Regions from separate parts of the Homo sapiens genome. Here regions 1 and 3 are each linked to region 2. The links come from fine-mapping of genetic effects on gene expression. A gene starts in region 2. Each other region holds a variant in brackets. All regions are shown on one strand. Distances are between the middles of the regions.

Evidence for each region. PIP is the estimated chance that this variant, and not a neighbour inherited with it, causes the effect.
Region 1: its variant is the best candidate, but not a certain one, in a credible set for the expression of ENPEP in lung (TOPMed, PIP 0.62).
Region 3: its variant is the best candidate, but not a certain one, in a credible set for the expression of ENPEP in lung (GTEx, PIP 0.88).

What each region holds. Positions count from the first base shown.
Region 1 is chr4:110,413,201-110,415,867 of GRCh38, forward strand. No RefSeq gene overlaps it. Among named protein-coding and RNA genes, the nearest start is that of ENPEP, 62 kb to the right of the region's middle. The variant C/T (reference allele first, on the strand shown) is at 1,366.
Region 2 is chr4:110,474,579-110,477,245 of GRCh38, forward strand. ENPEP (glutamyl aminopeptidase) reads left to right here and starts at 1,577. Exons shown (of 20, transcript NM_001977.4): 1 at 1,577-2,480. The coding sequence starts at 1,837.
Region 3 is chr4:110,501,605-110,504,271 of GRCh38, forward strand. The region is part of intron 3 of ENPEP (glutamyl aminopeptidase); the gene reads left to right. Among named protein-coding and RNA genes, the nearest start is that of ENPEP, 27 kb to the left of the region's middle. The variant T/C (reference allele first, on the strand shown) is at 1,438.

The DNA.
Region 1 (2,667 bases), 61 kb before region 2:
AACACTGGAAACTGGGTGGTTTAAACAACAGAAATGTATTGTCTCAACAGTTCTGGAGGCTGAAAGTCTGAAATGGAGGCATCTGGTGGGTTGGAAACTTCTGAGGACTGTGAGGGAGAATTCATTCCATGCCTCTCTCCTAGATTCTCCCAGCCTTATGCATTCGTTGGCTTGTAGACGGCCTTCTCCCTACTAGTAAGGGGAAGACATTACTAGTATCTGTCTGTATACAAATTCCTTGGCTTGTAGATGGCCTTCTCCCTTACTAGTATCTGTCTGTATACAAATTTCTCCACCTTTTAAAAATCTAGACATAAGTCATAATGGTTTAGGGCCCACCCTAATGACCTACCTCATTTTAACTTGAACATCTGTAAAGCCCCTATTTTTCTTTCTTTCTTTTTTCTTTTTTTTTTTTGAGACAGAGTCTCGCTCTGTCACCCAAGCTGGGGCACAATGGTGCCATTACGGCTCACTGCAGAGGTTCCAGGGTTCAAACGATTCTCCTGCCTCAGCCTCCCGAGTAGCAGGGATTACAGATGCATGCCACCACACCCAGCTAATTTTTGTATTTTTAGTAGAGATGGGGTTTTACCATGTTGGTCAGGCTGGTCTTGAACTCCTGACCTCAAGTGATCCACCCGCCTAGGCCTTCCAAAGTGCTGGGATTATAGGCATGAGCCATCGTGCCTGGTCCATCTTTCTAAATAAGGTCATGTTCTCAGGGACTGGGAGTTAGGAGTTCAGCATCCTTTAAAACCCATAAGAATTAGTAACCTGAATTAATCTGCAAAATAAATGAGGGAACAGAGGCCAAAGAGGGTAAACCACTATCAGATGGACTAGAACCCAGGCACGAGGACTCATTACTTCAGCCTTTCATCCTCTGTGTGTGTTCACAGTCCCCATTTAAATATGTATGTTGTATCAAGGACTACAATAGTAATTTGGAGTTTGGGAAAATTGCATATCCTGCGCTGATGGACTGGAAGATGAGATGTGCTTTAGGCAGAGCCTGTTTATCAATAGGTGAGTGGCTATGAAATGGGGGTAGGAACCCATAGGGAAGAAACTAGATGATCTGCTGAAAATGAGAAGAAAAATGAGCTGCTGGACCTGCCAGCTGGCACCACTGCTCAAGTGGATTATGAACTGAATATAGAAAATATGAGGGAACAAAGAGCTGTATGAGTGTTCACAGCTGTTCTCCTCACATGCATGACCCCTTCTCAAACATATTTTCTGAACGAATCACTCTCAGCAGGAAAGTGGTCTCTCTACTAGGAATAACAAACAAGACAGTCTCTACAACTACTTGGGCAAAGAGAAGCTTTGCCATGGAGAGGTCTGCTCTTACCTGTGTTT[C/T]GCAGAATGCTCTGCAGAGAAACACTCACTTTGTTCATGATTTGTCTAATTCCTGGAAAACATCAGCACTGCAATTTAGTTTTAGAGTCTGTTGAAAAGATGTGCTGGCATTAAAAAAAATTAAGAAACTATGCTGTGAACTGCAGACTTTCTGAGAAATCTGGAATAGTTTGGCCCACACATTTCCTCTCAATTGAGAACACAAGGTTTGGAATCAGGCCAGGTGACCTAGGTTATAGCTCTGGCTCTAACTACATGACCTTGTCCAAGTTACTTAATGTTCATAAACCTCCATTTATCTATCAATAAACAGGACTAATAATACATACATACCTCATGGGGATGCTGTGAAGATGAGATGAAATCCATCATCAAGGAATGTTAGCCAGAATCAGAATCCTTATCACCACTACATTCTCAAAGTCTCCTTAGATCCAAATTGAACATTTTTAGGAATAATTTTTAAAAATAAAATCTATCTTTTCTTTGTAAATTTGCTTTTTAGTTTAATGCTTAATGTTTTGGTCAGTTGAATGAACTCTTTCAGCATCCTAAAATTATGTTAATATTGAGGAAAATATTGCTTACTAAATTTTTTGGATTAGAAAATAGTGCATGAATGCAGTAAATTCTCTGGATTCAGAGTCCCGAGTGCTCACCATTACGCCAGAGAGCCCCATGATAAAATGCAGTAAATTCTCTTGCCAGGATTGCAAGCTGACTCAATTGAAAGAATACCGTTTTATTTTTCTTATTTATTTATTTAGACAGAGCCTCTGTAGCCCAGGCTGGAGTGCAGTGGTGTGATCATAACTCACTGTAGCCCTGAATATCAGGGTTCAAGTGATCCTCCCATCTCAGCCTCCCAAGTAGCTGGAACTACAGATGGGCACTACCATGTCTGGCTAATTTTAAATTTTTTGTAGAGATGGTGTCTTGCTATGTTGCCCAGGTTGGTCTCAAACTCCTGAACTCAAGTGATCCCCCTGCCTTCACCTCCCAAAGTGTTGGGATTACAGGCATGAGCCACCACATCTAGCCAGGGAAAAGAATACTAAGTGTGAACATCAAGAACCTTGATGTTACGTAACAACCTTGTCACCAGCCAGTGATATATCCTCCAGTGCCTTAAATATTGGCTTCCTTGTTCATCAGATTTAGTAACTAATGAGGCATAACTGAGTAAGCAATAAAGGACTCATAAAAGAAGGGTCTCAAGTTCTCTGGTGCTGCTATATCAGGGGCGTGGGGTCCCCACAGACCTGGAAATTCCGGCCCTTCTTTCTCAACTCAGAGAAAATT
Region 2 (2,667 bases):
TCAGAGTGTGCTCTGTGGAACAGAGGGCCCTCAAAAGGTACCTCACCAGAAAAAGCTGTCTTGTCAACTAAATGGGGAAAGTACTCCGTCGTGTTTCCTCTCTGAGAGGCTCACAATGTGTGTCACCATCTGGAGGCTCTGCAAGAATGGAGAGTAGTAAAAGAAGATTTTTCACTTTAACCCAGCATTGTTTGCTTGGCAAGTAGATCTGTTAATATCCATGGATTGTATCTGGGGAAATACCAAGTTTTTCATAGTTACTTAACCCTTGAATATTTATCCTCCTCAGAGCATGGAAGCAAGCAGTAGAATGCGATCGTTGATATATGGACTTTAATTTTTTTAATTTTATTTATTTATTTATTTATTTTGAGATGGAGTCTTGCTCTGTCACACAGGCTGGAGTACAATGGCACGGTCTCTGCTCACTGCAACCTCCGCCTCCCAGCTTCAAGCAATTCTCCTGCCTCAGCCTCCTGAGTAGCTGGGATTACAGATGTGTTCCACCACGCCTGGCTAATTTTTGTATCTTTAGGAGAGACAGGGTTTCACCACGTTGGCCAGGCTGGTCTCAAACTCCCGACCGCAGGTGATCCACCTGCCTCAGCCTCCCAAAGTGTTGAGATTACAGGCGTGAGCCACCACACCTGGCCAGATATATGGACTTTAGACTCAGACAACGTGGGTTCAAACCCCAGTTCTGCTATTTGCCAGGTGTGTGACCTTGAGCAATAGCTTAACCTCTCTAAATGTCAGTCCATAGCTAAGCTGCCAGTAAATATGAAGTTCATTGAGATTTTTCTTCCTGAGCTTGTCATTCAGAAACAAAATGATAGATTTGCATGGATGATGGATTTCCCAACAGGTCAATTTTCACATCTGGAATCTACTTTAAACGTGCTCTACCACATCAAAGTCTAAGGAAGTCAATCTCACTTGGAGGCACACTGCAGAGACAAGTAGGCCTTCTTCCTTGTCCCTCTGTCCTTTCAGACTTCTCCCCCTCTTGTTCCCTCTCTCTTCTTAAGCTTTCCAGCTCCACTACTGCTTTGGCTAATTTCTTTGGGTTCCCCCTCTCTCATTCACCCAGCACCAGCTGAACTGATTTAGGTTTACCTGGCTATGCTTTCCAAATCTAATTCGACAAATATTTACTGAGTACCTAGGTGGTCCTTGAATCACCCTGAGCACCCAATTCCAGGATATGACTTCTTCAAAGGACAGAATTGGAATGTTTACATAATATGAGGGAAAAAAAATAAAAGAAAACACTTAGCTTCTTTAGCAAGCTATCTGATAAAATAGCTGAAATTCAAGAAGCCCTTTAGTTAGGAGGGAGAGATTGCGAACACAACAGGAAGAAGCCCCAGGCTGAGTGGCAAAGGTTGAGATTTTCTATCGTAAGCACACCTCACCCAAACGCTTGCTCCCTGAAAGCTGCTGACGGAGCTTTGGCGAGGGCTCATCCTCCCGTTGGCTGATAAGCGAAGCCCTGTTTTATATTTAACTCGCTGCAGTGCAGGAGGGGTAGGGGTGGAGATGCGTCGTTTATAAGGGGAGCTGTGACAATCTTCTTGCCAGCCCTCTTCCTCCCACTCGGCTCCTCTTACGGAGTCCTCATTCCACCCCCCTTGTTTCCGCATTCATCCTGAGTGGCTGGTGGGAACGTGAAAAGGGAGAGGAAAAGGCGCAAGAAGCCAGAGAGAGGGGTGTGGGAAAAGCGAAAACAGGCTGCCAAATCAGGGGATTCCTTCCAATTTAAAAAGGAAGTCTGCTGACGTTAGTTAGTTAAATTTAACATCTTTTTATGTGTAACACTTGACTTTGGAAGCAAAAATGAACTTTGCGGAGAGAGAGGGCTCTAAGAGATACTGCATTCAAACGAAACATGTGGCCATTCTCTGTGCGGTGGTGGTGGGTGTAGGATTAATAGTGGGACTTGCCGTGGGCTTGACCAGATCGTGTGACTCCAGCGGGGACGGCGGGCCGGGCACTGCGCCAGCTCCTTCCCACCTGCCTTCTTCCACGGCCAGCCCCTCAGGTCCTCCTGCCCAGGACCAGGACATCTGCCCGGCCAGTGAGGATGAGAGCGGACAGTGGAAAAACTTTCGACTGCCGGACTTCGTCAACCCAGTCCACTACGACCTGCACGTGAAGCCCCTGTTGGAGGAGGACACCTACACGGGCACCGTGAGCATCTCCATCAACCTGAGCGCTCCCACCCGGTACCTGTGGCTGCACCTCCGGGAGACCAGGATCACCCGGCTCCCGGAGCTGAAGAGGCCCTCTGGGGACCAGGTGCAAGTCCGGAGGTGTTTCGAGTACAAAAAGCAGGAGTACGTGGTGGTCGAGGCGGAGGAAGAGCTTACCCCCAGCAGTGGAGATGGCCTGTATCTCCTGACCATGGAGTTCGCCGGCTGGCTGAACGGCTCCCTCGTGGGATTTTATAGAACCACCTACACGGAGAACGGACAAGTCAAGTAAATATTAATTTTTGCTTTACCTCCCTTAAGCTCACATATCTGCTTTCCATTTCTTTTCCTTTCCTTTTCACTTTCCGCTTTTAATTATTTTGTTGGTCTGATATTGATCGGCTCTTGGTTTCAATTCTGGCTGTCCATCTGGGAAGCCAAAATTGTTGCCCTATTGTATTTCCAAACCCTGTCA
Region 3 (2,667 bases), 27 kb after region 2:
GACATGATCTCATTCTTTTTTATGGCTGTGAAGTAGTCCATGCTGTATATATACCACATTTTATTTATCCAGTCTACTGTTGATGAAAATAAGTTGATTCCATCCACGTCTTTGCTACTGTGAATAGTGCTGTGATGAACGTATGGAGGCCTGTGTCTTTACGGCAGAACAGTTTATATTTCCTTGGGTATATATATCCTGTAATAAGATGGCTGGATCATTTGGTAATTCTGCTTTAGTTCTTTGAGAAATTGCCAAACTGCTTTCCACAATGGATAAACTAATTTGCATTCCCACCAACAGTGTATAAGTGTTCCTTTTTCTCTACAAGTTTGCCAGCATGTTATTTTTTGACCTTTTAATAATAGCCATTCTGACTGGGTGAGATAGTATCTCATTGTGGTTTTGATTTGCAGTTCTCTAATGATTAGTCATGTTGAGCATTTTTTCATATGCTTGTGGGCCATATGTGAAAAGTGTCTTTTGAAAAGTGTCTGTTCACATCCTTTGCCCATTGTTTAATAGGGTTGTTTGTTTTTGCTTGCTGATTTAAGTTCTTTACAGATTCTGGATATTTTACCTTAGTTGGATGCATAGTTTGCAAATATTTTCTCTCATTCTGTATGTTGTCTGTTTACTCTATTGATAGTTCCTTTTGCTGTGCAGAAGCTCTTTAGTTTAAGTCCATTTGCCTACTTATGGTTTTGTTGCAGTTTCTTTTGGCATCTTTGTCATGAAATCTTTGCCAGGTCCTATGTCTGGAATGGTATTTCCTAGGTTATCTTCCAGGGTTTTTATAGTTTTAGGTTTTACACTTTTTAACCTGTCTTGAGTTGACTTTTGTATATGGTGTAAGGAAGGGGTCCAGTTTCAATCTTCTGCATACGGCTAGTCAGTTATCCCAGCATCATTTATTGAATAGAGAGTCTTATCCCTATTGCTTCTTTCTGTCAACTTTGTTGAAGATCAGATGGTTGCAGGTGTATGGCATTATTTCTGGGCTCTCTATTCTGTGTCATTGGTCTGTGTGTCTATTTTTGTCTTAGTACCATGCTGTTTTGGTTACTATAGGCTTGTAGTATAGTTTAAAGTCAGGTAATGTGATTCCTCCAGCTTTTTCTTTTTGCTTAAAATTACCTTGGCAATTATATTTTTGGTGCCATATAAATTTTAAAATAGTTTTTTTCTAATTCTGTCAAAACTATCACTGGTTGTTTGATAGGAACACCACTGAATCTGTGAATTGCTTTGGGCAGTATGGCCATTTTAACAATATTGATTCTTCTTATTCGATGTTTTCTTTTTTTTTAATTATTATACTTTAAGTTCTAGGGTGCATGTACACAACGTGCAGGTTTGTTACATATGTATACATGTGCCATGTTGGTGTGCTGCACCCATTAACTCGTCATTTACATTAGGTATATCTCCTAATGC[T/C]ATCCCTCCCCGCTCCCCCCACCCCACGACAGGCCCTGGTGTGTGATGTTCTCCTTCCTGTGTCCAAGTGTTCTCATTGTTCAATTCCCACCTATGAGTGAGAATATGCAGTGTTTGGTTTTTTGTCCTTGTGACAGTTTGCTGAGAATGATGGTTTCCAGCTTCATCCATGTCCCTACAAAGGACATGAACTGGATGTTTTCTTTATTTTTGTCGGACTGAGTTAGTTTGGGGAGCCAGTTTTTGAGCTCTGAGATTCTTTCTTCAGCTTGGCCTATTCTGCTGTTAATAATTGTGATTTCATTATGAAATTCCTGTAGTGTGTTTTTTTTAGCTCTGTCAGGTCATTTTGGTTCTTTCTTATAACGGTTATTTTGTCTTTCAGTTCCTGTACTGTTATATTGTAATCCTTAGTTTCCTTGGATTGGTTTCAACTTTCTCAATGGTTCTCAATGGAATCTCAATGATCTTCCTTCCTATCCATATTCTGAATTCTATTGCTATCATTTCAGTCGTTTCAGTCTGGTTAAGAACCCTTGCTGTGGAACTAGTGTGGTTCTTTGGAGGAACCAAGGCAGTCTGGCTTTTTGAGCTGCCAGAGATCCTGCACTAGTTCTTTCTCATCTGTGTGGGCTGACTTTCCCTCAACTGTGGTGGCTGATGTTCCCTCAACTGTGCTGTAATTTGAGTACAGTCAGTTGATTTCTTTCCTGGATGTTTTCAGAGGACGAAGTGTTTGTGCTGGGTCATTATTTGCGCTGAATTCATGTCCTTTGTTTCTCAGGGGCGTTATGTTAGCAAAGTATTTTTGGTGCTGAAGTTTGGGCTATGATCCAGTAGATGGTGCTTAAGCATAATGGCCAGTAGTTAGGCTCTTGCTCAGCCACAAGGCTCCTCTGTGTTTCCTCCTAATTGCAGCTGTGCTCTCTCTCAGTGCTCTGAAACTGCCTGCTCCTCTCCAACTCAAGTACTGGCTGCAGATCTCAGCTTGGCACTCCTGGGCTGCTCACCACAGCCTTGGAGCAAGCTCAGGCTTTATGCTCCTTCTGCAGCCTGGAGGCAGCAGGGGAAGGGACCTTGGCAGTTGCTGTAGCAGAGGGCTTTTCACCGGTCTTTTGGAACTCCACCCCAGAGAAATGCAGAGCCACTACCAATTGGTGCAATCAGCCCGGGGTCAGGTGGTTGTATTGTGGGCCCAAGCCAAGGGCCTGCCTGGTGATGAGCAGGGGT